2 linked regions of the Homo sapiens genome follow. The gene in region 1 interacts genetically with each later gene. Each region holds a gene or a part of one and is shown in the gene's direction. Other genes may lie near its edges. The genes, in order: ATF6 and SP1.

Region 1 (3,820 bases):
TTAAAATACGTCTATACAAAAAGTCTGACATTAATATGACTAGCGTATAAAGCAGGGGTATTCCTAAGAATTTGCCCTTAGCAGATCATTGACTATGTTTGAGTGATGGAAGATCTTACCTATAATAAGAAGACAAACTGTTCTTTTCTGAGCAGTTTATCAGTTCCAGAAACCTGAATTACACATTATTTGAAACTTCAATACTTTCCTGTCATCTGAAGACTATAGTTATTTTTTTGTGAGCATGTGCTAATATGAGGAACTGCACCTTGCCTGTTTTTTTTCTTTTATTTGAGACAGAGTCTCGCTGTGTTGCCAGGCTGGAGTGCAGTGGTGTGATCTTGGCTCACTGCAACTTCCACCTCCTGGGTTCAAGTGATTCTCCTGCTTCAGCCTCCAGAGTAGCTGGGACTACAGGCACGTGCCACCATGCCCAGCTAATTTTTATATTTTTAGTAGAGACAGGGTTTCACCATGTCGGCCAGGATGGTCTTGATCTCTTGACCTCGTAATCGCCTGCCTCGGCCTCCCAAAGTGCTGGGATTACAGGTGTGAGCCACCGCGCCTGGTGCCTTGTCTGTTTTTATAGTACAATCTAAATAGGTGGTATTATTATAATAACATACAGATTTAAAGTATGTTTTTCATTTATTTGAGAATGGGGAGGAAGAAGGGAAGTATGGGCAAGACATTATACAGTTAATCATGTTAATACTAGTAGTAAATATGTTACCATTGAAAAAGAAGAGGTAATTTCCACAGGTTTAAGACTGAGATTCTCTAGCTTGGAATGTAAAACTCTTCACAATTTGGCTCTAGTTTAGTTTTTTGTTTTTTTGTTATTGTTGTTTGTTTGTTTTTAATAGAGACAGGATCTCACTATATTGCTCAGTCTGGTCTCGAATTCTTGGGCTCAAGGGATCTACCCACCTTGATCTCCCAAAGCTCTGGGATTAAGGCGTGAGCCACCATGCCTGGCCTCCTAGTTTAGTTTTCGAACTTTATAATATTACTCTTTTCTATAAATCCCTTCTTCTAGCTCAACTAATCTGTCATTGTCCTTTGAATTCTCTTGTTTTTCCTAGTTTTTTGGCTCACCATTTTCTACCAACCAGCAACAACTTATGCCTACTTCTACTTCTCAGTCCTCCATGTCCTTTAAGACTGTTTTGAGTAGTGTAGATGAGAGATAATGAAAGCCTGGAATATCAATGAAAGTGGAGAACCAGGATGAAGAGTAGAGATGTTAAAAGTGTAGAATCTTAGAGATTGGTAATTGGATTGTGTAGAAGGAGGCTGAACGATAGAGAGGAAGGTGTCTAGGATGACTTCCGTTTTTCTATCTTGGGGCTTTTTGGGTAGATGATGGCGAAAATTATTGAAATGGGAGACAGAGGTAAAATATGTTGCCCAGATCACTCTGCTAATAAGAAGTGGAGCCAGAACTTGAGCCCAGGTGGTCTGGCTCGGAGTCTATGTGAATAATCACTATACTGTATCGCCTTAAAAAAAAAATGACAGATGTATTCCTTGCTCTCAAGAATTCTACACTTTAATTGGGGGATTAAATTCACATAAACAGTTAAATAACAGTCACTGTGATAACTAATAAATTAATAACTCATGCAGTGCCCTTATGGAAGCTATTATTATATAGAAAAGGAGATTAATAATAATAATAATTGCATTTAAGTTCTTACTATGTGCCAGACACTCTTCTAAGTGCTTAAGTGCATTATCTTATTTCAAATAATATTTACACATTATTTGAAACTTCAGTATGTTTCTATGATTTATGGTGATGGGTTGTGATATCTCCATTTTTTAGATGAGAACGCTAAGTACAGATTATTTGCCCTAAGTCACACACCGATGCTGTTTCAGACAAAGTAGGCATTCAATAAATGTTTGATACATAGTTTAAAATCTTTGAAGAAAGTTTAAAAGAAAGAACTATCAAAATCAGTGAGTTACACATAGTCAAAAAAATATATGGCATTGAATCCAGCCATGTTCCGTTAAGGGGGATTTGCATGTAATGCCAGAGAGGATTTTGAGCATGCTAAAATGGATAAACAGCCTTTGGAATGTCCTTTTTAACTGTTTCCACACTAGGAACAGTAGTAACTATGTTCAGCTGCTATTTAAGGCCCCAAACAATTCTTTGCATTGTAGTTTGTGGCCTGGTCAGCATTTACCAAGTCACCATGAGAGTTTTTTGTTCTTTCACTTGAACATATTGTCATAGAAATTTAGTTGTTTCCCCTCATTCTGTGTTGAACCCAAACATGCCTAGAATATTTAGAGTATCCCTGATTTAGCTGCTGGGTAATTTGAGGATAGTTGGGTACTCTGGGATGAAAAGGCTTGATACAATATGGGAAAAAAAGGAAGCAGCAGTGGCTTGGTAGGACTCAAGCCACATTTGGCCTTGCCTTGGTATTCTTCCATCTCCTTTGTGTGATGCGGTCGTCTCAGCAAGGAGACAGTGGTAATTACACAATTGGTAGTACAGATTTGGATTATTTTTCTTAATTAGTTTAAGAAATATTACAAAGCCCTCTGTACATGTTATCTGCTAGGGCTTTAAATCTGTAACTGTAGCTAGAAATAGGATTCTTTCTTATAAGTTGCCTAATTCATTATATTTACACCTCTTCTGTTCTTTAAAATAGTCCCAAAGTTCCCTGAACAGTGTTTAATTTTGGGGAGGGATCTTTTAATCATAATTTTAAACTCAGAGGATGTAGAACATGGCTTCCTATAATACTCTTCTCAAAGTATTGGTTTAAGTCAGTGGTTCTCAGTCTGTATATTGTGGACCCTGGGATGTGGGTGATGGGGGTAGTAGCTTTATGGCATTTTGCAAAGCATCTGCAAATCCATACTTGAAGCAAGCATTTTCTGTAGACCAAATAATTTATTTCATATATCTTTGTACAGCTCTTCAAATTTTTATAGCTATACTTCTGACTAATAAACTCCAAGTTCATTTTAAATCTTCACTAAATTCTTAGCAGCCTTTTTCCATCATGTATTTTCTCAGTACACAGAAGCTGAAAGGACAACCTTGATGGTTTTGGGTGACCAGGATATTATTTTATATTAAAAGAGAGCCCTTATATTCAGGAGCCTTTGGGGAGAGACTATGGGTTTTCTAGGTGTAGAATTATATCATCTGTGTGAGAGATGGTTTGACTTCCTCTCTTCATATTTGGATGCCTTTTATTTCTTTCTTTTGCCTGATTGCTCTGGCTATGACTTGAGCACTTGGGAATTCTTGTTTTTTGGTTTTTTTTTTCACATTATGATAAATATATATTTTCATAGTGCCAGATTTACTGTAATTTCTTATTGTTATTAAAACCTAACACTTGGTCATATGCTATTTACTTTATGTGTTTCTAATTTTTATTTGCGTATTTGGCCTAAGCATGTTTATATCTGCTTCTGAGTAATTTCTGCATTTTATATGTTTTTACTTCATAAAAGATGGAGGCCACCTCAAAACAAATTAGGCATCAAAGGAACATACCTCAAAATAATAAGAACCATCTATAGCAAGTCCACAGCCAACATTGTAATGAGTGGGCAAGAGCTGGAAGTACATTCCCTTTGAGAACCAGAACAAGACAAGGATGTCCCTCTCACCACTCATATTCAACATAGTGCTGGAAGTTGTAGCCATAGCAGTCAGGCAAGAGAAAGAAATAAAAGGCATCCAAATAGGAAGAGAGGAAGTCAAACTACCTCTCTTCACAGACGATATGATTCTATACCTGGAAAACCCATAGTCTCAGCCCAAGACTCCTAGATCTGA
Region 2 (3,820 bases), on another chromosome or scaffold:
CCTGGCCAAAAAAATTTATTTATTTATTTTTTTGTTTTGAGATGGAGTCTTGCTCTGTTGCCCAGGCTGGAGTGCAGTGGCACAATCTTGGCTCACTGCAGGCTCCGCCCCCTGGGTTCACGCCATTCTCCTGCCTCAGCCTCCCTAGTAGCTGGGACTACAGGTGCCCGCCACCTCGCCCAGCTAATTTTTTGTATTTTTAGTAGAGACGGGGTTTCACCGTGTTAGCCAGGGTGGTCTCGATCTCCTGACCTTGTGATCCGCCTGCCTTGGCCTCCCAAAGTGCTGGGATTACAGGCATGAGCCATGGGGGCGCCCGGCCTTTTTTTTTTTTTAAGACAGATCTTCATCCGGGTACGGTGGCTCACGCCTGTAATCCCAGCACTTTGGGAGGCCAAGGCGGGCGGATCACCTGAGGTCAGGAGTACAAGACCAGCCTGGCCAACATGGTGAAACCCCATCTCTACTAAAAGTACAAAAATTAACCGGCGTGGTGTCAGGTGCCTGTAATCCCAGCTACTTGGGAGGTTGAGGTAGGAGAATTGCTCGAACTTGGGAGGTGGAGGTTGCAGTGAACCGAGATCGTGCCGTTACACTCTAGCCTGGGCGACAGAGTGAGACTCTGTCTCAAAAAAAAAAAAAAGAGCTTCGCTCTTGTTGCCCAGGCTGGAGTGCAACGGCACGATCTCGGCTCACTGCAACCTCCACCTCCCAGGTTCAAGCAATTCCTCTGCTTCAGCCTCCCAAGTAGCTGGGATTACAGGCATGTGCCACCACGCCTGGCTAATTTTGTATTTTTAGTAGAGATGGGGACCATGTTGATAAGACTGGTCTTGAACAATTTTTGTATTTTTTAGTACAGATGAGGTTTCGCCATGTTGGCCAGGCTGGTCTCGGATCCCTGACCTCAGGTGATCAATCCACCTGCCTCGGCCTCCAAAAGTGTTGGGATTACAGGCGTGAGCCATCACTCCCAGCCCCTAGAAACCTTTTTAAAAAAGAAGGCTTGGCCGGGTGCGGTGGCTCACGCCTGTAATCCCAGCACTTTGGGAGGCCGAGGTGGGTGGATCACAAGGTCAGGAGATCGAGACCATCCTGGCTAACATGGTGAAACCCCGTCTCTACTAAAAATACAAAAAATTAGCCGGGTGTGGTGGCGGGCACCCATAGTCCCAGCTACTCGGGAGGCTGAGGCAGGAGAATGGCGTGAACCCGGGAGGTGGAGGTTGCAGTGAGCCAAGATTGCGCTATTACACTCCAGCCTGGGCGACAGAGCGAGACTCCGTCTCAAAACAAACAAACGAACAAAAAAAAGAAGCCTTGGTCCAGTGCAGTGGCTCACGCCTGTAATCCCAGTACTTTGGGAGGCGGAGGTGGGCAGATCCATCACCTGAGCTCAGGGGTTCGAGACCAGCCTCGCCAACATTGCGAAACCTCATCTGCACTAAAAATATAAAAATTAGCTGGGCATGGTGGTGTGCACCTGTAATCCCAGCTACTCGGGAGGCTGAGGCAGGAGAATCGCTTGAACCTAGGAGGCGGAGGTTGCAGTGAGCCGTGATCATGCTACTGTACTCCAGCCTGGACGACAGAGTGAGACTCTCTCAAAAAAACAAAAAAGAAGACTTTTTCAAAAAATAAAAGTTTGGGTTAGTTTGGTGTCGATTGGGTGATTGCTGTTGATACTTTGTGGTTCTTTAGTTTTCTCTAGAATGAATGATTAACAGTTGTGTCCTCACTTTCAGGGGCTCGGGGGATCCTGGCAAAAAGAAACAGCATATTTGCCACATCCAAGGCTGTGGGAAAGTGTATGGCAAGACCTCTCACCTGCGGGCACACTTGCGCTGGCATACAGGCGAGAGGCCATTTATGTGTACCTGGTCATACTGTGGGAAACGCTTCACACGTTCGGATGAGCTACAGAGGCACAAACGTACACACACAGGTGAGCAAGAGCCTATGGGAGAGAAAAATAGTAATAGACTAGAATGAAAAACACAAAATATACCTACAAAATAACTAAAATTTCTGAGCAACTTAATTTGAAACTGAATATATGGGTCACAAATGGAATTGGAGTTAATCTGGAAAATTTTTAAGAAGGAAGGAGGGGCTGGGTGCAGTGGCTCACGCCTGTAATCCCAGCACTTTTGGAGGCCGAGGCGGGCAGATCACGAGGTCAGGAGATCGAGACCATTCTGGCTAACATGGTGAAACCCCGTCTCTACTAAATATACAAAAAAATTAGCCGGGCATGGTGGCAGGCGCCTGTAGTTGCAGCTACTCAGGAGGTGGAGGCAGGAGAGTGGCATGAACCTGGGAGGCGGAGCTTGCAATGAGCCAAGATCGTGCCACTGCACTCCAGCCTGGGCGACAGAGCGAGACACTGTCTCAAAAAAAAAGGAAGGAGCCAGGTGTCGTGGCTCATGCCTGTAATCCCAGCCCTTTGGGAGGCCGAGGTGGGTGGATTTCTTGAGGTCAGGAGTTCAAGACCAGCCTGGCCAACATGGGGAAACCCTGTCTCTACTAAAATTACAAAATAGTCAAGCGTGCTGGTGCACACCTGTAATCCCAGCTACTCAGGAGGCTGAGGCAGGAGAATTGCTTGAACCTTGGAGGCGGAGGTTACAGTGAGCTGAGATTGTGCCACTGCACTCCAGCCTAGGCGACAGAGCAAGACTCTGTCTCAAAAAAATAAAATAAAATAAAATAAGGAGCTAGATTTTGAGTGGGATTTTTGAAGGTGAAGCATTGAAACCATTACTCTTAGTCTCTGCCCTGCCTTACTTTTAAAACTGCTAAGTTCTACCTTCCTTACCGAGTACTCCCCAACCTTTATCTAGTTTTCTTCCTCACGCCCCCGCCAAAAGGAAAATATACTTGAAGTTTTTTGTTTTTTGTTTTTTTTTTGAGACAGAGTCTCTGTCGCCCAGGCTGGAGTGCAGTGGCGCGATCTCGGCTCACTGCAAGCTCCGCCTCCCGGGTCCACGCCATTCTCCTGCCTCAGCCTCTCCGAGTAGCTGGGACTACAGGCGCCCGCCACCACGCCCGGCTAATTTTTTGTATTTTTAGTAGAGACAGGGTTTCACCGTGGTCTTGATCTCCTGACCTCGTGATCTGCCCGCCTTGGCCTCCCAAAGTGCTGGGATTACAAGCGTGAGCCACCACGCCCAGCCACTTGAAGATTTTTCTTGTTTTTGATCACCTTCTCATACTGGCCTTACTCAGCTTAGTAGAGTAAGCACTGAATTGGGTAAGGTAACCTCACTTCCTAACATGTCAGCTTCTTATCTTTTCTTCCTTTACCTAGGTGAGAAGAAATTTGCCTGCCCTGAGTGTCCTAAGCGCTTCATGAGGAGTGACCACCTGTCAAAACATATCAAGACCCACCAGAATAAGAAGGGAGGCCCAGGTGTAGCTCTGAGTGTGGGCACTTTGCCCCTGGACAGTGGGGCAGGTTCAGAAGGCAGTGGCACTGCCACTCCTTCAGCCCTTATTACCACCAATATGGTAGCCATGGAGGCCATCTGTCCAGAGGGCATTGCCCGTCTTGCCAACAGTGGCATCAACGTCATGCAGGTGGCAGATCTGCAGTCCATTAATATCAGTGGCAATGGCTTCTGAGATCAGGCACCCGGGGCCAGAGACATATGGGCCATACCCCTTAACCCCGGGATGCAAGGTAGCATGGGTCCAAGAGACATGGAAGAGAGAGCCATGAAGCATTAAAATGCATGGTGTTGAGAAGAATCAGGAGAGGGATACAAGAGAGGAGATGGGGTCCCGGCACCCATCTGTATCATCAGTGCCTCTTTGAAGG

Evidence for each region.
Region 2: of ATF6 (region 1) and SP1, changing one enhances a phenotype caused by changing the other (phenotypic enhancement), as found in Homo sapiens cells (one study listed by BioGRID).

The regions. Positions count from the first base shown.
Region 1 is NC_000001.11:161,793,633-161,797,452, forward strand, and holds part of ATF6 (cyclic AMP-dependent transcription factor ATF-6 alpha), read left to right. Parts: intron 1-3,820.
Region 2 is NC_000012.12:53,407,617-53,411,436, forward strand, and holds part of SP1 (transcription factor Sp1), read left to right. Parts: intron 1-1,745; coding exon 1,746-1,945; intron 1,946-3,310; coding exon 3,311-3,624; 3' UTR 3,625-3,820. UniProt on the Homo sapiens protein: Transcription factor that can activate or repress transcription in response to physiological and pathological stimuli.